Linked DNA regions of Homo sapiens: regions 1 and 2 are each linked to region 3. Evidence: fine-mapped expression QTL. A gene starts in region 3. Each other region holds a variant in brackets. All regions are shown on one strand. Distances are between the middles of the regions.

Region 1 (8,187 bases), 75 kb after region 3:
CACCTACTAGTAAAAAGGGTCATGTGAGTTCATTTTAAAACACTTAAAGAAAAAAAGTTATTTCCAAGCCGGGCATGGTGGCTCACGCCTGTAATCCCAGCACTTTGAGAGGCCGAGGTGGGCGGGTCAGGAGTTGGAGACCAGCCTGAGCAGCATGGTAAAACCCTGTCTCTACTAAAATACAAAATTTATAAATATAAATATAAATAAAAATATATATATATTTATAAATATAAATATAAAATACAAAAATTAGCTGGGCGTGGTGGCGGGCGCCTATAATCCCAGCTCCTTGGGAGGCTGAGGCAGGATACTTGCTTGAGCCCGGCAGGTGGAGGTTGCAGTGAGCTGAGATTGAGCCATTTCACTCCAGCCTGGGCGACAAGAGTGAAACTCCGTTCCCTGTCCCCACCCGCCCCGCCAAAAAAAAAAAAAAAAAAAAGTTATTTCCCAGATGTACGACTTGTTGTTCAGAAACGTAGAAAGCATGAAGCTCCTCTGTTCCATTTCATCAAGTTTTCTAACGTCAATGGCACATGAAAGTAGAAAAAACAAGCTACTGAAAAAAGTAGTGCCTGATGTTACTTATAAATATGAAAAATTGCTGAATAAACAATGAAAAAGGCTGGGCGCGATGGCTCACGGCTGTAGTAATCCTAGTACTTTGGGAGGCCGAGGGTGGATCGCCTGATCTCAGGAGTTCGAGACCAGCCTGGCTAACATGGTGAAACCACGTCTCTACTAAAATGTAAAAAATTAGCTGGGCGTGGCGGCGTGCGCCTGTATTCCCAGCTACTCTGGAGGCTGAGGCAGGAGAATCACTTGAACTCGGGAGACGGAGGTTGCAGTGAGCCGAGATCGCGCCATTGCACTCCAGTCTGGGCAGCAGAGTGAGACTCTGTCGAGTCAAAAGAATCTGCTCTCTGAATGTAAAAGTAAGTGGACAATGGGAAAAGAGAGTTGAACAGTGAAGATAAAAGTAAAATGAAATGAAAAGAGGTAATGCTGGAAGTAAAAGTTGAAACAAAAGTAAATGGAGTTACAGAAGAAACAACTGACCATGGGGCTGACACTACTGACACTAGATACGCAGCCAGAGGAACTTAGTGAAGGTGAGCTTATCAGTACAAAGGAGGAGAGAGGTTATGATATAAAGGACAAAGATGTCCCAGAGTAAGTGACATTGGCGAAACATCGCTTCACATTACAGGGCTTTCAGAAATACTGCATGACCAAAGATGCAAAGGATTAAATGTGAGCATCTGATCCAGACTTAGAAAGGAGCGTGGAGCGTGACAATAAACCCAGGCATAGAAAAGATGAGCACTCCATAGCAAAAGTTATATGAGGAGGAGAGGAAGGCAAACACCATTCAAACTTTTCTTTGGAAGTTTTAAATAAAGCAATGAAACACTTCAATCATCAACATTTCCAATTCTTAAATTATAGTGTACTAAATAAACTTAGCTTTAGTAATGTGTGTTAGTAGCTGACAGCAACAGATTCTTTTCAATATATTCACAAAAGTTTTAAGGCCCTAGAATAATCATAATCTTCCCATTAGTTAATAAGATTGGTTTGCGGCCGGGCGTGGTGGCTCACGCCTGTAATCCCAGCACTTTGGGAGGCGGAGGCTGGTGGATCACGAGGTCAGGAGATCAAGACCATCCTGGCTAACACGATGAAACCCAGTCTCTACTAAAAATACAAAAAAATTAGCCGGGCCTGGTGGTGTGCGCCAGTAGTCCCAGATACTCGGGAGGTTGAGGCAAGAGAATGGCATGAACCCGGCAGGCGGAGCTTGCAGTGAGCCGAGATTGCCTCACTGCACTCCGGCCTGGGCGACAGAGCAAGACTCCCTCTCAAAAAAAAAAAAAAAAAAAAAAAAGATTGGTTTGCATGATTTCAGCATGGATTATTCTTACAGTCCTGCACTACTTACTGTGCAGAGTGAGAACAGACTTTCGGGATTTCACACCAACTGTCAAATGAGAAATAGTGCATCACTATGTAAATATCTTCTGAAGTCATTAAATCAAACTTATCATATATTCTTTTTTTGGGATTACAGGCTCCCGTCACCATGCCTGGCTAATTTTTGTATTTTTAGTAGAGACGGGGTTCACCATGTTGGCCAGGCTGGTCTTGAACTTCTGACCTCGTGATCTGCCCGCCTCGACATCCCAAAGTGCTGGGATTACAGGCATGAGCCACCGTGCCTGACCTAAATATTCTTTATAACATCTCAATTTTAAACCTGATAACATTCTTAAATAAGAAATACTAGCAGACACTTTTAAAGTTAGGAATAATTATTATTTAACCTGGACATGAATAAGGGAGAAATGATCATTTTAAACTTTACTGAGTACTGCCTGGGAAACAACTGTTAGAATCTAGTGAGAATCCACTTGAATCCATCGAAAACTTTAATATAATTTCTAAATAAGTACATAAAGACAATACTTTTTATATGTTAGTAATAACCAAGTAAAATATATTATTGGAGTAAAGGATTGTATTTGTTGTAGCAAAATTTCTGATCTAGGAAGCTAGGAAATTATTTGCAACTAAGATGACAGGCAAAATATTGAATTTGTTTAAATATATAAAAAAGTACTGCTAAGATAAAGAACAAAAATTATACAATTTAACCAAAATGTGAATAAAAATGGCAAATAACTATTTGAAAAAATATTTCATCTCGCCTATTTTATTTTATTTTATTTTTGGCTAAAATAGCAAAGATTTTTAATGATAGCTTACTTGTAGTGGCAATGGTGATATTAGATGGATTCAACTATATCTTGCTGAAAAAGATAAAAATGGCTACTTTCTTTAGGAATGTACTTTGGGTTATATGTAAATACCACTGAAACATCCACAGCTATGGTGCTGGGTCAGAAATGTTGAGGGAATTTAGTGAAAGACTTTATAGGTTTAATGCAGATCCTTTGATTGTTTAGGGAAGTCATATAACTACTCACAAATTTGGTGATTCACTGGAGAAATTACGCGACTCAACATATGAGGCTTGCATGGACCAGCATATGAGGGTTCCAGCTGCAAACAGAAAAGTCATGTCCAAGATGTCTCAACTTTGGGAAGCTCACTTGATCCTTGTGATCCATACTGGTCACATGGTTACATGACCAGCAATAGTGTCCCAAACCAGGCATCAGGATCACATCATGAACCTTCAGGTTTACCTTACATAATGCTGACAGTCTGATGCATCCTGACCACTGCCTTGGGCATGCAGAATAATATCATTAACCAGTTACCATGTGCACATGCCGGGACTTGGTTCTCAGCACTTAGCCAGGAGGCATTACAATGGCTACAGAAAGAAGCAAAAATGATAAAACAGACCTGCTGAGTTATTTTATTCCTTGCAGTTTACCTCTGACCCTTAGTCAGTTTCACCTTACAAAGAAATTATTTATAACACTATTAAATCTACATGTAGTGTACCATTTATTTATAG[G/C]GTAAAACAGGAATGGTAATGCAAATACATGCATCATTTGCAGAAGTTAGTGAGGAAGGGGGGCAGACTTAAAGAAATAATCTGTTAAATTCAATGTTCCACAACATATTTCTTTTTACTGTTATATAAACTTAATTATTGATTTTTACTTATCTATGGCTATCTTACTTTATGAGAAAACTCTGCAGAAACACCTATTATAGTGATTAATTGATTAATTAAATCTCATTCTTCCTCAGGCCAATTAGTGTCTCTATTGATATTACAACCCAAGGAAGTTTTAACTCAATTTCTCAGTATATTCACTCAACATTAGTACTATCATTTGATGCATTTATATAAGATAGCCAAATTTTACCAATAATCCCAATTTTACACCATATTGGAGTATTATTATGTTATTATTATTTTTTTTTTGAGACAGAGTCTTGCTGTGTCGCCCTGGCTGGAGTGCAGCGGCATGATCTCAGCTCACTGCTACCTCCGCCTCCTGGGTTCAAGCAATTCTTCTGCCTCAGCCTCCCGAGTAGCTGGGACTACAGGTGAGTGCCACCACGCCCAGCTAATTTTTATATTTTTAGTAGAGATGGGTTTCACCTTGTTGGCCAGGCTGGTTTCGAACTCCTGACGTTGTGATCCACCAGCCTCAGCCTCCCAAAGTGCTGAGATTACAGGTATGAGCCACAGTGCTATTATATATTTATTTATTTATCTGAGATGGAGTCTTGCTCTGTCGCCCAGGCTGGAGTGCAGTGGCGTGATCTCGGCTCACTGCAAGCTCCACCTCCTGGGTTTATGCCATTCTCCTGCCTCAGCCTCCCGAGTAGCTGGGACTACAGGCGCGTGCCACCACGCGCGGCTAATTTTTTGTATTTTTTTAGTAGAGACGTGGTTTCACCGTGTTAGCCAGGATAGTCTCGAACTCCTGACCTCGTGATCAGCCTGCCTCGGCCTCCCAAAGTGCTGGGATTACAGGCGTGAGCCACCGCGCCCAGCCCTATGCTATACTTTCGTATTGTTAGAAAATAATTGGGTGAGCATTATAGCATTATTAAAATCATGTTAGTAGATTTGGACTTTACCCATATACTAGATATTATTATGAGCTGGGATTGTTACCAGTGTCTTATGATTCTGTTACTTCTGGATTTCAGGCTAACTGGTACAAAGCTAATCTCTTAGCCTCTGTCAGTATGTTTGCACAGATACAAGGTTCCCATCTGGTGTTACATATGTAAAAAAGCTCTCCTTGATTCCACAAGGAGTATACATGTGTTGTTTATTATATTCTTTACACAATATGTCACGTCTTGGTTTATTCTTGGAATAAGAGCATTTAGGGAACATTGATATAAATTGCCTTTGCCTCAAGAAAATTTTCATAAGTTCAGGAGATCACGTATTTTTCAGAAGTGTACTTCTAGAGCTTCTGCTGCAACTAAAACGGTAGGTCACCGCCTATGACTCATTTGACCTCCATTTCAAGAAACATGATTTGAAGGCTCTGTTGGACTAGCTTGTGTGCTCTTTTCCGATAATGAGTTTTTTGTGTTTTGTCATTTTCTAATATGGTAGATTGGGTTTCTATGACCTGATTTACTAGGGCATCTGTCTTAGTCTGTTTTATGTTGCTATAACTGAAATCTGAGGCTGGGTAATTTATAAAGCGAACGAATTTATTTCTTACAGTTCTGGAGTCCCCAGAAGTTCAAGGTTGAGTGGCTGCATGTGGTGAGAGCTTTCCTGCTGCTGGGAACTCTCTGCAGAGTCCCAAGGCAGGCATCACATAGTGAAGTGGCTGAGTGTGCTAATCTGCTAGCTCAAGTTTCTCTTCCTCTTCTTATAAAGCCACCAGTCCCTCTCCCATGACAGTCCATTAATCCAGTAGCCTATTAACCTGTGCTTGTTTGTTTAGAGATGGGGTCTTACTCTGTCACCCAGCTTGGAGTGCAGTGGTGCAATCATAGCTTACTGCAGTCTTGAACTCCTGGGCTCAAGCAATATTCCTGTTTCAGCCACACCAGTAGCTGGGACTACAGGTACATACCACCAGACCTGGCTTATTTTTGTATGTTTTTGTAGAGGTGGGGTCTAGCTTTGTTGCCCAGGCTGGTCTCGAACTCCTAGCTTCAAGTGATCCTCCTGCCTTGCCTCCCAGAGTGCTGGAAGCCATCCACCATGTGTCATCACACCTGGCCTAACCTATTAATCTATGAATGAATGAATTCACTCATGAAGGTAGAGCCTTCATGACTCAATCATCTCCTAAAGGCCCCTTCTCTCAATATTGCCACATTGGGGATCAAGTTTCAATAGGAGTTTCTGAGGGGACAAGCATTCACATCATAGCAGCATCAATAGATTCTGTTCTTTACTGTTTGAACATAATTTCTTCCAACTTGTCTATTTTTGCTATTGATCTTTTTCTTTTGAATGTCCTTTATACTGAAGGAAAACTTTGCTTGTCTTACCATGCCTATACCCATACCTATTTCACAAAGAGCTCTCTTTCATCTTGTTGCCCAGTGTCTTTTAATCCACTACACATGCTGTTGTTGTTGAGTGCTAATTGCCTGGGAACAATAAAAATACATACTTTGTACCCCAAATTGTCGGGTCCTCTATACTAAGGTCAAATGTGTAGTGGTCATTCATACACATTTTAGTGTGCCACAAAGCTTCCCATAACCCCCCATTGTCTCGCTGCAGAGTTAACTTCAGTTGGGATGTGAGCCCAATGCTTTATCAGCATCTGAAGTAATTTTTTGTTTTAATCTTGTGTGACATCTGTCCATCCATAAAGACAAAGGTTTAAGTTCTTTTATACATTACACTAGGAGATAGCTGCCACTATTTGTTTTCCATTATACTCAGGAACCTAAGCATTTGGCCATCAGATTAATGACACAATGATTAGTCTGCCTGCCTGATATGACTGTACATCATAGCTGCCAGAAGGGAGAAACTCTCCGAGATCCCTCCTTAATTGCAATCTAATTGATATGTCCTGTAAAACAAGAACCAAAAGACTTAAGGGACATTAAGAGAGTCCTGCTTAGTCTGTCTACTGGGCAGCGCCGGGGCCTGCGGCTGCACAGGAGCCGGAGCCGGGAGCCGCGCTCCGCCAAGAGTTGGGCAGACGCCCCCCCTCCCCTGGTTGTCATGGGCCCCCTCTCGGGGCCTCAGCGGGCACCAGCCGCGGGAACCCCCGGGCCTCCTCGCGCCCGAGCCTGAGCGACCCTCGGGTTCTCCGGCGCCCCCTCCCTCGCCCTATTTTTTTCCTGCTCTCGCTACCGCTACCGCTTCTGCTCTCGGTTATGGCAAAAGAGCCACCATCACCCCTCCGGGTCGAGGCGCCAGCCCCCCGGAAATGCGGGCCCCACCGGCGATCGAGGCCATCCCTGAGGGCACCGGGCAGCCGGCGGGCGGCAGACTCCGCCTCCTCAACGGCTAAGTGCCCCTCTCGTATCAGGTGGCCGGACACATGAACGGGAAGGACAAAGTGGGTATACTGCAACACTCAGATGGCACAGCTTTGAAACAGTTACAACCACCTCCAAGGGGCCCAAGAGAGCATACGGTTTATGCTGCTGACTGTTCTGATGGTGTTCTTCTAGAGCTACGAAAATATTTGCCAAAATATGGCATCTGGTCACCTCCCACTGCACCAAACGATTTATACCTAAAACTGGAAGATGTGACACATAAATTTAATAAGCCCTGTATAATGAATATAAAGATAGGGCAAAAAAGCTATGATCCTTTTGCCTCATCTGAGAAGATTCAGCAAGTACCCATTAATGGAAGAGATTGGGTTTCTTGGTGCTTGGCATGAGGGTTTACCATGTTCATTCCGATAGCTATGATATACAAAACCAGCATTATGGAAGAAGCTTAACAAAAGGAACTACAAAGGATGGAGTCTCCGGATTTTTTCATAATGGGTACTGCTTAAGAAAAGATGCTGTTGCTGCCAGTATTCAGAAGATTGAGAAAATTCTGCAGTGGTTTGAAAACCAGAAGCAGCTTAACTTTTATGCAAGTTCATTACTATTGGTTTATGAAAGTTCATCTCAGCCAACCACTACAAAATTGAATGACAGAACTTTGGCAGAAAAGTTTTTGTCCAAAGGACAACTGTCAGACACAGAGGTACTAGAGTACAATAATAACTTTCATGTATTAAGTTCCACAGTGAATGGAAAAATAGAGGCTTAAGTGGGCAAAAACTTGTCCAAGATGTATGCTCGTCACAGGAAAATGTATACAAAAACCATCACAGTCAGACTTCAATGAAAGTTGAAAATCTGGAGCAAGACAATGAGTGGAAAAGCATGTCACAGAACATTTAAATGGAAATGTACTTTCCCAACTGGAAAAAGTTTTCTACCATCTTCCCACTGGTTGCCAAGAGATTGCTGAAGTAGGAGTGCGAATGATAGATTTTGCTCATGTGTTCCCTAGCAGCACAATAGATGAGGGATATATTTATGGGCTAAAGCATTTAATTTCTGTACTTCGAAGTATTTTAGACAATTGAATCCTCTGTTGCAGTCTTTTTAAGGGGTGGGCCAATCATAATGAAGAGGAGCAGTCAATATCTCTGCACCTTTAATGCTATGTAAAAAATTTGTATTGTGAGTCAACATTTTATTTGTCTTTATACTTTTGGAAGAAAGGTTAACTTTTTTATACTCTTT
Region 2 (8,187 bases), 42 kb after region 3:
AATCAGCTATAGTCCAAAACTTGCTTCTTTAGGGTAGTTCACAGAAAGGATTCTGATGGGTGCTTCAAATGTAAGTTTCTGACAACCTTGGAGATTTCATCAGTAGAGTAGAGAAACAAACTTCCAGAACTCTCATTGTAGAGCTACTGTGTTCATGAGGATTACTAATCCCAATATCAAATGAAATGAATTAATTTCATAGAACTGAACTAACAGAGGACTGAAATATATTTTATAACCCTTTTTGTTTGAAGCATTGTTGATTTTTTTTTTCAGTCAAGAAAACTTTTAGACATGAAATCAACCTAGGCGTCCATCAATAGTGGATTGGATAAAGAAAACGTGGTACATATACACCATGGAGTACTATGCAGCCATAAAAAATGAAATCATGTTCTTTGCGGCAACATGGATGCAGCCACTATCCTAAGTGAATTAATGCAGGAATAGGAAACTGAATACCACATGTTCTCATTTACAAGTGGGAGCTAAACATTTGGGAGCTCATGGACATAAAGATGGCAATGATATGCACTGGGGACTACTAGAGGTAGGAGGGAAGGAGGACGCATAGGTTGAAAACTACTGAGTATTATATTCACTACCTGGGTGATGGGAACATTTGTACCCAAAACCTCAGCACCATGCAATATACCCAGGTAGCAAACCTGTGCATATACCCCCTGAATCTAAAATAAAAATAGAAATTACTTTAAAAAGATAGCTTTTTTCTTTTGATCTATTTATAATTTTTAACAATTGAGTAAAGTATACTCTTATGACCAGAATCTGAAACACGTTTCTTTTTCTTTTTCTTCTTTTATTTTCTTTTTTGAGACGGAGTCTTGCTCTGTTACCCAGGCTGGAGTGCAGTGGTGCGATCTCAGCTCACTGCAAGCTCCACCTCCCGGGTTCACCATTTTCCTGCCTCAGCCTGCTGAGTAGCTGGGACTACAAGCACCCGCCACCACACCCAGCTAATTTTTTTGTATTTTTAGTAGAAACAGGGTTTCACCATGTTAGCCAGGATGGTCTCGATCTCCTGACCTTGTGATCCACCTGCCTCAACCTCCCAAAGTGCTGGGATTACAGGTGTGAGCCACAGCGCCCAGCCACGTTTCTTTTTCTTTTACCTGATTTCTCCAGAATTTGGAAACTTTTTTTTTTTTTTTTTTTTTTTGAGATGGACTCTGACTCTGTCACCCAGGCTGAAGTGCAGTGGCACGATCTCCGCTCACTGCAAGCTCTGCCTCCCGGGTTTACGCCATTTTCCTGCCTCAGCCTCCCAAGTAGCTGGGACTACAGGCCCCCGCCACCACGCCCGGCTAATTTTTTTGTATTTTTAGTAGAGACGGGGTTTCTCTGTGTTAGCCAGGATGGTCTCGATCTCCTGACCTCATGATCCGCCCTCCTCGGCCTCCCCAAAGTGCTGGGATTACAGGCATGAGCCACTGCGCCCAGCCGAATTTGGAAACTATTTTTGACAATCCTTAATTTATGGCAATATAATTATTTGCATAAGTTCAATAAGAATCTGTTTTCTCTTGTAACAGAACCCAATTGGAGACGTTGGATATTTTATCAAGTCTTTGACTGGAATGACATTTTTTCAGAAATAACCAGACTGCTTTGAGGAATTAAAATTGACTTTAAGGGCTGAGAAAAACCCCTTGGAAAAACTGGCATGGTACCCTCTGCATGCAATTCCTTTACAAAGCTCCTGACCTGTGGTGAGTAAAAAATTTCACCTTTGAATGGCCCGGAACCTCAAGTTACTTTGGAACATTGAGAAGAGAGGAATTCCCCCAATTCTTACAGGTGTCTGTTCATACAGCTATCTGCAGGCACAAATAAATCCTTGGCTGGGCCAGGGGCGGTGGCTCAAGCCTGTAATCCCAGCACTTTGGGAGGCCGAGGTGGGCAGATCACTTGAGGTCAGGAGTTCAAGACCAGCCTGGCCAACATGGTAAAACCTTGTCTCTACTGAAAAAACAAAAATTAGCCTGTGTGGTGGCAGGTGCCTGTAGTCCCAGCTACTTAGGAGGCTGAGGCAACAGAATCGCTTGAACCTGGGAGGCAGAGGTTGCAGTGAGCAGGGATGGCACCACTGCACTCCATCCTGGGCGACAGAGTGAAACTCCGTCAATAAATAAATAAATAAATAAATAAATAAATAACGTCTTAGGACTCCCGTCTCACTATGCCAAAGCGAAAAGTTAAGAGTGGGAACTGAGTCACGCATAAAACTGCCTTCTTTTTGTTCCCAAACAGAAAGAACCATGATTTCACATGCTTGCTTTATCTTACGGAAAATATAGATTTACTGAGCATGAAATGAATGCATAATTGACTTTTTCCTCTACGCCCTTCTTTGCATGTGTAAAATATAGATTCACTGAGTGCTAATCAATGCCTCACCACTTGCATCAATGCCTACCCTCCCTCCTTTTGTTTCTTCCACTCCTTCTTACTCTTTCCTGTTTAAATATTGAAGTTCACAAAACCTTCTTTGGAAAAAGCACAGGTGACAGGTACTACTTTAACTTGTGCTTCTTTTTCTTGAGTGCATCCTCAAAATCCATCTCTAATCAGTTGGGATCTGCCCTAGTAGTGGTTTACAATCCACAAATAGTCCTTTCCCAAAATTTTTTTCTGGGAAAATTTGGTTAGTGCTAGATCTTGCCAAAGGTCCTTGGGAGTTATTTCAGTAAGAGATAATAATTATTTGGTTATCTAATTGGCTTTCTTCTCATGATTTGTTAATCAGAGATGCCTCCATACTACAAAATAGAATGAGAGGTCATACTGAGAACAAGGAAGTAGAACAATAGAACAAAAGCTGACTGGTTAACTTCAGGTTCCTGCAGGTTACTTTGTTCATAAGCGTTAAAGCAGAGGGGACTTTTTTAGTATACTGACTCAGACTTGTATCCCCTGATTTCAGGAAAAACAAGTCTGATGTGGGATCTACCTGTTTCCTTAGAGTTCCAGTTTAATTATATGGTATTTAGCATGAGTGACTCCATTTTGGTTTAGTCTGGTCTCTTGTGGCCCAATTTGTAATAGCTCAGTCTAAAACAAGGGCCTCCCATAACTTTTGTTTAATCCTTCTTAGAACAACAGGGGATTTAAATACATTATGACCATTAATCTTAATAAGGTCAGCCAAAGTTGCTAGACACTTTTCAAGTTAGAAAGACTGAACATCTGCCCAGAAATAAAATGACCAACAAATGCAAATCTCCTACTTGAGGACCACTTTTTTTTAAGGTGTGTATGCCTCTATAAATAGATTATAAACAAACTTGTCTCTTTGTCTCCTAGTGAAGCAAAAGGAACCTGTGATGGGATTTCCTCATTGAGCAGAGGCTGTAATTGGATTTTATCTTGGGCAGAGAATATAGTTGAATTTCACCATGTATCCGTGATTTTTGCCCTGGAAAATGTAACTAAATGGGCCAGAACACCTCTTTCTCCATTATTTTTTTTTCTTTTTCTCTTTCTTTTTTTTTTTTTTTTTTTTTTTTTGAGACGGACTCTCGCTCTGTCGCCCAGGCTGGAGTGCAGCGGCACAATCTCGGCTCACTGCAAGCTCCGCCTCCCGGGTTCGCTCCATTCTCCTGCCTCAGCCTCCCAAGTAGCTGGGACTACAAGCGCCCACCACCACGCCCGGCTAATTTTTTGTATTTTTATTAGAGACCGGGTTTCACAGTGTTAGCCAGGATGGTCTCGATTTCCTGACCTCGTGAGCCGCTGCCTCAGACTCCCAAAGTGTTGGGATTACAGGCGTGAGCCACCACGCCCAGCACTCTTTCTCCACTTCTATATCAGTAGGGTGGCATAGCTTGAGGAGCCTCTGCTGTAGGTTAGGGGAACTTCTCTGTCATGATTTATCCACAGTTGCTGAGGACAAGATTTGGAGTGAGGCATGTTCAAATAACTAGGTGAGCCTATTCAGGCAGAGGGCTGAAAACTTTACATTTAACATTGGATTATTGTTCGTTGTTCATTTAATAAGCAGTAAAAAACATGAGAAAACTTTTGTTCCATCTCCTGATTTTTTTGAAATTTCCACTTCATTTTGTTAGGAAGACAGAGATACAGTGATGCCCAGGCTAGGTGGGCCTTCACACAATATGGTGCCTTAACCATATTGCTACACAGAGCTGTAGCTATTCCAGAGAAAATGCAGCAGAGACCACAGAGTGTCTGCCAGGCTTCCTCAATTTTACTGAAACACATGTACTACCTGCATGCGCTAATGAGAAATAAAAAGATTTCATAGTCATTTGGAGATTCAAAATGCTCACCATCAAGAGTGACTACTGTAAACGAAGGAGCCAAGGACAATTGCCAGGGAAAGAGTCAGATGAAAAAAATAAAGGAAGAAAGAAGAAAGGAAGGAAGAAAGGACAAAAGGAATGGAGGGAGGGAGGGAAAGAGGGAGAAAGGGAGAAATGAATGAAGGAGAAAGAAAAGGAAGTGAATGGTGTCAAACAGAAAACTTGCAAAAGAAAGTGGGTGGTTTGAAGTTTAGGATAAAGGGAATAAAAGATCCAGATAAATTTTTTAACAAGCAAATTAAAGTTATGAAATGCTAAGTGAAAGAAAACTGAAATCAGCCTAAGGAGCAGAACAATATTGCTCAGCAGGGGATGGTGGTTTTCAAGGTATCTGTCTTAGTCAATTCAGGCTGCTATAACAAAACATCATAGACTGGGTGGCTTAAACCACAAACATTTATTTTCCACAGTTCTGAAGGCTGGGAAGTCCAAGATTAAGGCGTCAACAGGTCTTGTGTCTGCTGAGGGCTGTCTCCCTGATTTGCAGATGTCTGCTTTCTTGCTGTGTCCTCACATGGGAAAAAGAGAGAGAATTTGCTGGTATTCCTTTTTATAAGGACACTAACCCCATTCATGAGGGTCCCACCCTCATGACCTC[G/A]CCTAAACCTATAACCTCCAAGGACTCCATTTCCAAATACCAGCAACCACATGTGTGAGCTTAGAAGAGGATCCTTCCCCAGGTGAGCCTTGAGATGACCCTGGCCTGTGACTTGATGGCAGCTTTTGAGAGACTGAGCCAGAGGCCTCCAGGTAAGCCCTTCTCAGATTCCTGAACCACAGAAACTGTGAGATAATCAATTTTATTGATATCTTGTGGATATTGATATCCCCAGTTTTATTGTGGAATAGATAACTGCCACACAGCTCCTGACAACTGGCATCTTGACACATGTTCTGTGCTCCAGGTCCCAGTAACTGTGCCCATCCATTGTTACCACAGGTCACAGTGGCCCTGGCCCTGGGGCATTATACTCTCTCTTGGTGTATTAGTCCATTCTTAGGCTGCTAATAAAGATATATCTGAGACTGGGTAATGTATAAAGAAAAAGAGGTTTAATGGACTCACTGTTACATATGGCTGGGGAGACCTCACAATCATGGAGGAAGGTGAAGGAGGATCAAAGGCACATCTTACATGGTGGCAAGACAGAGAGCATGTGCAGGGGAATTGCCCTTTATAAAACCATCAGATCTCATGAGACTTATTCACTATCATGAGAACAGCATGGGAAAAACCCGCCCGCATGATTCAATTACTTCCCACTGAATCCCTCCCATGACACATGGGGATTATGGGAGCTGCAATTCAAGATGAGATTTTGGGGGAAGGGCATAGCCAAACCATATCATTCTTCCCTGGGCCCCTCCCAAATGTCATGTCCTCACATTTCAAAATACAATCATGCCTTCCCAACAGTCCTCCAATGTCTTAACTCATTTCAACATTAACCCAAAAGTCCAAGTCCAAAGTCTCATCTGAGACAAGGCAAGTCCCTTTCGCCTATGAGTCTGTAAAATCAAAAGCAAGTTAGTTATTTTCTATATACAATGGGGGTACAGGCATTGAATAAATATTCCCATTCCAAATAAGAGAAATTGGCCAAAACAAAGGGGCTCCAGGCCCCATGCAAGTCTAAAATCCAGCAGGGCAGTCAAATCTTAAAGCTCCAAAATGATCTCTTTTGACTCCATGTCTCACATCCAGGTCACATTGATGCAAGAGGTGGGTTCCCATGGTCTTGGGTAGCTCCATCCTTGTGACTTTGCAGGGCACAGCTCCCCTCCCAGCTGCTTTCGCGGGCTGGCATTGAGTGGCTGTGGCTTTTCCAGGTTCATGGTGCAAACTGTCAGTGGATCGACCATTCTGGGGTCTGGAGGACAGTGGCCCTCTTCTCACAGCTCCACTAGGCAGTGCCCAATGGAGACTCTGTATAGGGGCTTCCACCCCACATTTCCCTTCCACACTGCCCTAGCAGAGGTTCTCCATGAAGGCTCTGCCCCTGCAGCACACCTCTGTCTGGACATCCAGGCATTTCCATACATCCTCTGAAATCTAGGCAGAGGTTTCCAAACTTCAATTCTTGACTGCTATGCACCTACAGGCTCAACACACCATGTGGAAGCTGCCAAAGCTTAGGGCTTGCACCCTCTGAATCCACGGCCTGGGCTGTACCTTGGCCCTTTTAGCCATGGCTGGAGCAGCTGGGATGCAGGGCACCAAGTCTAAAGGCTGCACACAGCAGGCGGGCCCTGGACCCAGCCCAGGAAACCATTTTCCCTCCCAGGCCTCTGGGCCTGTGATGGTAGGGGCTGTTGCAAAGGTCTCTGACTTGCCCTGGAAATATTTTCCCCATTGTCTTGGTGATTAGCATTTGGCTCCTTGTTACTTATGCAAATTTCTGCAGCTGGCTTGAATTTATCCTCAGAAAATGGGTTTTGCTTTTGTGCTGCATTGTCAGGCTGCAAATTTTTCAAACTTTTAAGCTCTGCTTCATCTTGAACACTTTGCCACTTTGAAATTTCTTCTACCAGATACTTTAAATCATCTCTCTCAAGTTCAAAGTTCCACAGATCTCTAGGGCAGGGGCAAAATGTCACCAGTCTCTTTGCATAGCAAGAGTGACCTTTACTCCAGTTCCCAACAAGTTCCTCATCTCCATCTGAGACCACCTCAGCCTGGACTTTATTGTGCATATCACTATCAACATTTTGGTCAAAGCCATTCAACAGTCTCTAGGAAGTTCCAAACTTTCCCACATTTTCCTTTCTTCTTCTGAGCCCTCCAAACTATTCCACCCTCTGCCTGTTACCTAGTTCCAAATTCACTTCCACATTTTGGGTATCTTTACAGCGGCACCACACTCTACTGGTACCAGTTTACTATATTAGTTCATTCTCACACTGCATTAAGACATACCTCGAGACTGGGTAATTTATAAAGAAAAAGAGGTTTAATGGAATCACAGTTCCACATGGCGGGGGAAGCCTCATAATCATGGAGGAAGGTGAAGGAGGAACAAAGGTATGTCTTACACGGCGGCAGGCAAGAGACCATGTGTAGGGGAACTGCCCTTTATAAAACCATCCAATCTAGTGAGACATTCACTATCATGAGAACGACATGGGAAAAACCTGCCCCCATGATTCAGATACCTCCCACTGGGTCCCTCCCATGACACACAGGGATTATGAGAGCTACAATGCAAGATAAGATTTGGGTGAGGACACAGCCGAACCATATCACTTGGGAATTCCCTGCATCCTACCCAGACCTTTGTAAGCTGGTCTCAGCCTGCCCAATTTGAATGTGCTGGTTCTTCCAGATCCCTGATGCATACCATTGTCTTGGCCAGGCCCATCACATAATGATTTTGAATCTTTTGACAGTATTCACCATATAATATGGCTACTTGAAGTAAATGTTTTCTAACCTGTCATTTAAAGTGATTTATGTATCATCTATATATCTACATTGTAAGTTAAAAAAAATCAACTGGATTAATAGGAAAGTAAATGTCAAAATAAGTGCAAAGGCAGGTTAGGTCCAAGGTTTTTTAAGTCCAGCAGTTCAGTAAGGCTAAGGCCCTCTTTCTTCTCTGCCAAACTCAATGTGTGGGCTTGATCTTCTAGATCACTCTCTAAAGGTGGCATGGTCCTTGCAGTTGATTTAGATATATTTTCATATCCTCCAGGCTAGGAAGCATTGATAGGCAAAAAATAAAATAATGTACCTTCTTAAGAATGAAGATACTGGGGGCCAGGTACAGTGGCTCACGTCTGTAATCCCAGCACTTTGGGAGGCCAAGGCAGGCGGATCATGAGGTCAGGAGATCAAGACCATCCT
Region 3 (8,187 bases):
AAAAGGGAATTCTTACACACTATTGGTGGGAATGTAAACTACTACAGCCACTGTAGAGAATAGTATAGAGTTTCCTCAAAAAAACAAAAATAGAACTAGCATATGATCTAGCAGCCCTACTACTGGGTAAAGAACCAAAGCAAAGAAAATCAGTACATCCAAGAGTTGTCCATACTCCATGTCCATTGCAGCACTATTCACAATAGCCAAGCTATGGAGTCAACCCAAGTCTCCATCAACAGATGAATGGCTAAAGAAAATATGATTTTATACACACACATACACACACCTACACACACACACACACACACACACACACACACAGTGGAATACTATTCAGCAATAAAAAGAATGAATTCTTGTCCTCCATGGAAACATGGATGAGCCTGGAGGAAATGGTGTTAAGTGAAATGAGCCAGGAACAGGAAGTTAAACATGTTCTCACTCATATATAGAAGCTAAAATAGTTGATCTCATAGAAGTAAAGAGTAGAATCCAGGTTATTCAAGGGTGGAAAGGGAAGGGGGATATAGGGAGAGATTTGTTAAAGGACAAAAAATTACAGTTAGGTGGAATAAGTTCTAATGTTTTATAGCACTGTAGGATGACTGTAGTCAAGAATATATATTTTCAAATAGCTAAAAGAGGACATTGAATTCTCCCAACACAAAAAATGATCAATATTTCAGATGGCAGATATGCTAATATCCCTGATCTGATTACTATACATTGTATGTATAGAAACACCAATACGTACCCCACAAATACATACAGTATTATGTATGAATTTTTAAAAATAAATAATTTTTATAGTCAATGAAAATAGTTTATTATTTTATTGTTTTTTGTTTATACATGTTAAGTTTCAACTTTCAATAATAAAATTCAATAAATTTGATTCCTTAATCATAAAAACTTGCTTTACACATTAGTTACATGTTGTCAAAGTCCATACAAAACATCACAAGGATTTGATTGACTCTATGCATGGTACCATCACACAGAAGGAGGAGGGAGCTAATCCAGTAACAAACATTCAAAGATTAAATTGTAGATATGCACAGTGTATTTGGCACTGTTGATTAATATTATAACACCTTCCTCTCAAAGACAGGCATTCTTAAGCGTTAGTCACAATATACCAGAATTTGCTATTCATATTAAAACCACCTTTTAAACTTTATAACAGTAACCAATTATTATAGTTTTAAGAAACAAAACGCAATGAGAACTGGGAATGGAATTCAAATCCTCCAACTTCTTGCTATGCTCCAAGCTGCCATCCATAAAACAGGTTTAATTTGGTAATTTTTCCATTGTGGGAAGTGTCAACAAGAAACAATTTAAAGACAATATTTTCCAATACAAATAAAGACATACACTTTTGTTTAAAATGAACAGTTCTTCTTGGGAGTGCAAAGGGAGCCTTGATGACGTACAGCTTGTGATGATTTTGGCAGCAATTACAGAACAACCAAGGCCATTCAAGTTGTGGAGATTATACTAGCAGGTGAACTCGTAAAGAGAAGATTCTGGAATGCCTATATCTGAAATCAGAATCCTAGTAGTTTGTAGTTTGCCTCTTCCTAGAAGTTCAAGAGACTCAAGTCATAGGCTACAGATGTACTTTCAAGTATATAATTATGAATGGAAGGAGAAAATAAAAGCACAAAAATGCAAATATTAAACCTTTAGTGACTTGGACTATATTCCAGTAGGTAATTTATTCCACTAACTTCACTTTAACAAAGATTAAATCCCTTTATTTTAATCAGGTCCATTAAATTTCATTCATTAAAGTTATACATACTCCAGAATGTTTATAAGACATTTACACCGATCATGTTTACAAAAAGCATAAATTCAGTCTTAAGCTGCACTACAAATGCCTTAATATAACATAATCACAGTATAAGGAAACAAATCAGAAATTCTCTGATTAGATATGCTGTAGCTTCACAGAAAACTCTCAGTAATAAATTAAAACAAAAAGACTTACAATGTATAATGGGCTATGCAGTGCAAAATGATGTCACCGGACCAAAATTTAGTTCAATCATTTTTATTTCAAGTGTGTTTTAAAAATCATAAACGGGGTTTCATAATCCAAAGCTGAAACATTTATTCTTCATAGCTTCAGAATTGACAAGCAATTGTAGACCATGCTTTCCAAATCCACTCTTCTTTGCTATTTTTCAAATTTCTGAGATCTAGTATTAAACTGCTCCATTCTAAATGTACAGTTTTAGATAACTATTGTACACTTGTTGATAAGAGTTTTCTGAAAACAGTCTATCAAATACAAAGAATGGTTTCTATCCAAGAATCAGCAGTGAGGGAAGAAATACTAAACACCTGTCAAGAAATCAGTTATTCATTTTAAAAAATAACAGAACCAGTGCTGCTCTCTGTCATAAAAAAGAACATGTAAAATTTATTTTTATAGGCTTTGGTAACATTATATTCCCCACAGAGGCCTTCAATCCTACTTAAAGATATTTTACACACGGTAACCATCAGGTTTACTGAGTAAAAATCTCAGGTATTAACCATGCCCCTAAAATGTGCTGTTCCAAAGAGGAACAGGTTACTTTTGAGGAAAAAAGCTGCCTTGGTAACTTCCCTCAAATGTTTATTTTAAATAAAAATAGTTGATGGAAGTATTTTTTAAACCAACTTTGGATATAATATGGCATACTGCCCATCAAACAAAAAAGGAAATCAAAACTTTTCTTCCATTTATAATGAGTTTTCCACCTTTACTTTTAAGATTACAACTTACTGACCTTTTATGCTTGTTTGGTTTTTTGACTGCCTAATCCAATATTTAAATTTTTAAAAGTCTGCATTTCAATGTAGTAAGAGTTCTTTTTCAAATAATCTTCATAAGCCAGAATACAGACACCAGAGCAACACTCTCAAGTCACACTGTTTGACTATAATGAAGAGATGAAAATGGGCGGATATCTGAAGATAGGTATTCCCTCTGCTCTGAAGGTGAGCAAGCTTTTAACATGTGAGCAACACAGAACTCCTTTCCTCTGGGGCTCCTTTCAACTCAGAATGCTTCAGTTCAGTAAGTCAATATGTTATTCCTAAAAATTAAAGTTTGGTCACTAAGAAGGACTGAACAAAATTTATTCCCCTCCCGCCAAACACAACCAGAACAGTTCTAATCAGGCCCCCTTCTCCCCACGAAAACAGGGAAGTAGCTGGGCTGAAGACTTTATTAAGTGTGACATTTCAGTTCCTAAAACATCACTGCTATATGCTCAAAGTTGTAGGTCTATGTATTTCCTTCTCCAACACGTCCCCATTTATGTTTATTTCCACACATACAAACGTGCACATGTGTGCACGCACACACGCACACACTCACTCTCAAGTAAGACACTTCTTTGTGTTTGTTGATAAATTATGAGGATTATGAACTAGGTGTGTACAGGGTTTCATAGGTGCTTTCTAAACATCAGAGTCACTTGGGTCCTTTCCTCCATAAGCCTCAGATCAAATTATGCAACCAATGACCACCACTTTCCCAGACGCTGTTCACAGGCTGCATAATGACGAAGGGCAGAGAAAAAGTCCCCATAACTGATGTTTACATGGGAAGGCAAAGAGACAATCTCAGTCAATCTGATGTGCCAGAGAAGAAAGCCTCGTGTGCTGTCCACAGGACCGAACTTCAGTACTAAATCAGGATCAGGACAACCATTTGAACTGAGTAAACTAACATATCTACATCCACATCTGTGGGTCTCCTTTGCTTCTGGGCTACTCACTGGCAAAAGTCCTGAGCGGCTCTCACAATATCTGCTTTTCCATCTTCCGGCAATAGCACCTTCACTGCCAAATGGCAATTTAAAACTTGATCATCTTTGTCATTACTATTTGCAAACTCTGGTGAGCATTTTGAACAATCTAGGCCCAGAAGTTCTTGCTGTTGTTTTAAAATTCCATCCATCAATCTGGAATTATTTCTTTTGAAAATACCTTGGTGGTCGTAGACGCTAATGTAGGAGATGCCCACGGCCATACACCACACCACGAGGCTCTCGATGTCCGAGAAGCTGGGTTCCTGCTCCACCTCGGTGATCACCAGGCCCATGTGCACAGGCAGCTTCTCCAGGGAAGGGCCGTCCGCGCGCCAGCGCACCTGGTGGTGGGCTGCGGGCAGGCACGACCCCCGGCGCGGGTGCGGGTGGTGATGGCGGTTCCTGCAGACGCCTGGGACTTGCGGAGCGTGAAGCCGAGCGGCGCTAGGACCGCGGCAGAGGCGGCGCGCCGGCACAGTCGCCAGATCCAGTTCCAAGTGCCGAACCGAACGCGGAGCCAGGAGGTGAGCTTGCGGTGCAGACAGAGCAGGGGGGCAGCACCCGCCACACCAGCTCTTACAGCCCCGTCATACTCTTGTGGCCCTCGGGTACCCCCTCTCCCTCCCGCCCACTCCCGTGGCGCTACGGCTTTTTATCCGCCCCTGCGCCGGCGCGGGCATCGCTCCGCGTCCCCCCGCCCCCTAAGCCCGAACCCCTTTCCACTGCCAACACCTCACCTCGCCCCCGCCGCCATCTTCCTCCTCCCTTGGCAGCCCCGCCCTAAAAATAAATAATTTTAAAAAGCATTCATTTTATACTATCTCTTGAACACTGTTCAGCAGGGTAGATTCCATTTTGATGATTATTTTCATCAGCACTTGGAATATACTGTTCCACTGTGTGTGGTCGTGATTGCTGCAGTTGTGAAGTTTGCTCTCAATCTAATCAGAGTCCCTTTACAGTTATGCCTTTTTAAAAGTGCTTTTAGTGTTTTTTTCTTTGATAATTTACAATTTAATTTTAATGTTTCTTTTTTTAACAGTGTTATTGAGGGATGATTGACATACACTAAACCGCGCATATTGAAAGTGCAAAATTTGATGTGTGTTTATGCTTGTGAAACCATCACTACAGTTAAGATAATAAACAGATCGGCCAGGCTCAGTGGCTCACGCCTGTAATCCCAGCACTTTGGGAGGTGAAGGCGGGTGGATCATGAGGTCAGGAGTTGGAGACCAGCCTGGCCAACATGGTGAAACCCCGCCTTTACTAAAAATACAAAAATTAGCCAGGCGTGGTGGCACACGCCTGTAATCCCAGCTACTCGGGAGGCTGAGGCAGGAGAATCGCTTGAACCCGGGAGGCAAAGGTTGCAGTGAGCCGAGATTGCGCCACTGCACTCTAGCCTACGTGACAGAGCAAGACTCCGTCTCGGGGAAAAAAAAAAAAAAAGATAATAAACATATTCATCACCCTAGTCTCTCCTTGTGCCCTTTGTAATCCTTCCCTCCACTTCTCCACCCTCAGCCTGTCCCCAGGCAACCACTGACATACTTTCAGTTATCATAGGTTAGTTTGCATTTTCTATAATTTTATATACCTGGAAGCATAGTGTATGTCCTCATACTTTTGTGAGCTCTGGCTTCTTTGCTTCAGCGAAGTTATTTTAAGATTCATCCATGTTTTTGGCAGTATCAACAACCCATTTCTTTCTATGGCTGAAGAGTCTTCAATTTTATCAGTAAACGCAATTTGTTAATGCATTCAGGAGTTGATGAACATTTGGATTGGTTCCAGCTTTTGGTTATTACAAATAAAGCTGTTATAAACATTTGCATACAAACCTTTATATAGACATATGCTTTTCTCTCTCTAGGAGTGGAATGGCTGGATCATATGGTAGGTGTATTTAGCTATTTAATAAACTGCCAAACTGTTTTCCAAAGTGGTTGTGCCATTTTTACCTTCCCATGAGCAGTGTAGGAGGTTTCTAATTTCTCTACATCCTTGCCATCACTTGGTATATCAGTCTGTTTAATTTTACACCTTCTAGCAGGTGTGTAGTGGTATCAACTTGTAGTTTCAATTTGCATCTCTTTATTGAATAATGATATTAAGCATCTTTTCCTGATCTTGTTTGCCATCAATATTTCTGTTGGTGAAGTGTCTGTTCAAATCTTTCGTTCCTCTTTTTATTGCATGTTTGCATTTTATTATTGAGGTTCAAGGGTTTTATATGTTCTGCATAGAAGTCCTTTACAGATACGTGATTTAAAAATACGTCCTCTTGATCTATGTCTTTTCATTCTCTTAACAGTGTATTTTGAAGAGTGGAAGTTTTTAATTTTGATGAAATGCATATTATCAATTTGTTCTCTTATGAATTATGCTTTTTATGTTGTATCCAAGGTCACAAAGATTTCTGCTCTATTTTCTTCTAAAAATGTTATAGTTTAAGGTCTATGAATTCCTTTGAATTAAAGTTTGTATATGCTGTGAGGTACGAATCAAAGTTCACTTTTTTGGGGATTCAGCATCATTTGTTGAAAAGACAATACTTTCTCCATTGAATTGTCTTTGTACTTTGTCAAGAATCTATTGGCCATATATATGTGAGTCTATTTCTGGAATCTCTATTGTGTTTCATTGATCTATTTGTCTATATGTATGGCAATACCATACTGTTTTAATATAGCTTTATATTTAGCCTTGAAATCAGATAAGTAAGTCCTCCAACTTTATTCTTCTTTTGCAAAGTTATTTTCACTATTCTAGGTCCTTCATTTTTTCCATATAAAACTTAAAGTTCAATTATTGATTTTCACTTTTAAAAGCCTTCTGGAATTTTGATTGATATTCAATTGATCTATAACTCAACTTGGGAGAATTGACATCTTAACAACTTCAAGTCTTCCTGTCCATGAACATGGTACATGTTCCATTTAGTTAGGTCTTCTTTAATTTCTCTCAGCAATGTTTTGCAGTTTTCAATGTACAAGTCTTCCACATGTTTTATTTGGTTTATGGCTAACAATTTTATATTTGTTAATGGTATTGGAAATAACATTTTTAAAATTTCAATTTCTGATTGTTTTATATAAAAATACCCTTGATTTGTGTATATTAATCTTGAACTCTGCCACCTTGCTAACTCACTTATTAGTTCTAATAGCTTTTATTTCATGGATTCCATGGACTGGTGTACACAAATGATAAGGAAAGTGTTACTCTTTCCAATCTAGATGATTTATTTCTTTTTCTTGCCTTATTTCATGAGTTAGAACCTCCAGTACAATGTTTAATAAAAGTGATGAGAGTAGATATCTTTACCTTGTTCTCAATTTTAGGAAGACATAGATTTTTGTGTAGATGGCCTGCATCCTATGAGGACTCTTCATTTTATCCCTGGTTTTGTGAGGGCTTTTAATCATGACTCAATGTTGGGTTTTACTAAGTGCTTTTTCTATTAAGATGATCATATGCATTTTTCTTTTTAGTCCACTAATATGGTAAAGTTCATTTATTGATTTTTGAATGTTAAATCAACTTTATCTTCCTGCAATAAAGTACACTTTGTCATGATATAGATGAACTAGATTTGCTAAAATTTTAGTAAGAATATTTTCATCATTGTTCATGAGGGTTATTGGTCTCTGTTGTTGTTTCTTATGATGTCTGTTTGATTTAGTAAGAAAGTAATGCTATCTTCATCAAATAAAGGAAAGACCTTTTCCTTTTCTATTGTCTGGAAGGATTTGCGTAGAATTGTTATTGTTTCCTTAAATATTGTTAGACTTCACCATGAAAACCACCTGGGCCTTTAGTTTTCTTTGTCATTAGGATTTTAATTAAAAACTTGATTTTGTCAATAGATACTCTTGTTATCTATTTCTTCTTGAGTGAACTTTGATAGTTTATGCCCTCCAAGGAATGTGTTCATTTCATCTAAGTTATCAAATTTATTAGAAAAAAATGGCTTACAGTAGTCCATTGTTTCCTTATAATTACTGTAGAAGATTTGGTGACACCCACCCTTTCATTCCTGGTATTGGTAATTCGTGCCTTTTTACTTTTTTCTTGATCAGCTGACTAGAAGTCTAACAATTTAATTGATTGTTTAAAATGATTAGCATTTACTTTCTTGGATTTTTCTTATAATTTTCCCTTTTTTCTTTCATTGATTTCTGTTTTTTTTATTATTTTCTTTATCTGCTTACATTGTGTTTAATTTGCTCTTCTCTTTCCAGTTTCTGAAGGTGAAAACTCAGGTCACTGATTTGAGACCTTTCTTTTTTGTTATAATATAGGATCTTAGTGCTTAAATTTGCCTCCAAGCATACATTAGCTGCAACTCCCTGATTCTGATATATCG

Which allele goes with the higher level. Alleles are on the strand shown, and positions count from the first base shown. SD is a standard deviation of normalised expression in the study named.
In carriers of allele G in region 1, the expression in cerebral cortex of the gene that starts at base 3,688 in region 3 tends to be higher than with C alone (small effect, 0.29 SD a copy in GTEx).
As copies of G replace A in region 2, the expression in iPS cells of the gene that starts at base 3,688 in region 3 goes up (moderate effect, 0.54 SD a copy in HipSci).

What was found. PIP is the estimated chance that this variant, and not a neighbour inherited with it, causes the effect.
Region 1: its variant is fine-mapped to the expression of LINC00621 in cerebral cortex (GTEx, PIP 0.95).
Region 2: its variant is fine-mapped to the expression of LINC00621 in iPS cells (HipSci, PIP 0.95).

What each region holds. Positions count from the first base shown.
Region 1 is chr13:22,836,860-22,845,046 of GRCh38, reverse strand. It overlaps the pseudogene IPMKP1. Among named protein-coding and RNA genes, the nearest start is that of LINC00621, 75 kb to the left of the region's middle. The variant G/C (reference allele first, on the strand shown) is at 3,488.
Region 2 is chr13:22,869,841-22,878,027 of GRCh38, reverse strand. It overlaps LINC00621 (long intergenic non-protein coding RNA 621), which reads left to right. Exons shown (of 3, transcript NR_138043.1): 3 at 1,554-1,636. Among named protein-coding and RNA genes, the nearest start is that of LINC00621, 42 kb to the left of the region's middle. The variant G/A (reference allele first, on the strand shown) is at 4,942.
Region 3 is chr13:22,911,870-22,920,056 of GRCh38, reverse strand. It overlaps LINC00621 (long intergenic non-protein coding RNA 621), which reads left to right and starts at 3,688. Exons shown (of 3, transcript NR_138043.1): 1 at 3,688-4,339. It also overlaps the pseudogene NUS1P2. RefSeq lists an enhancer at 3,968-4,881.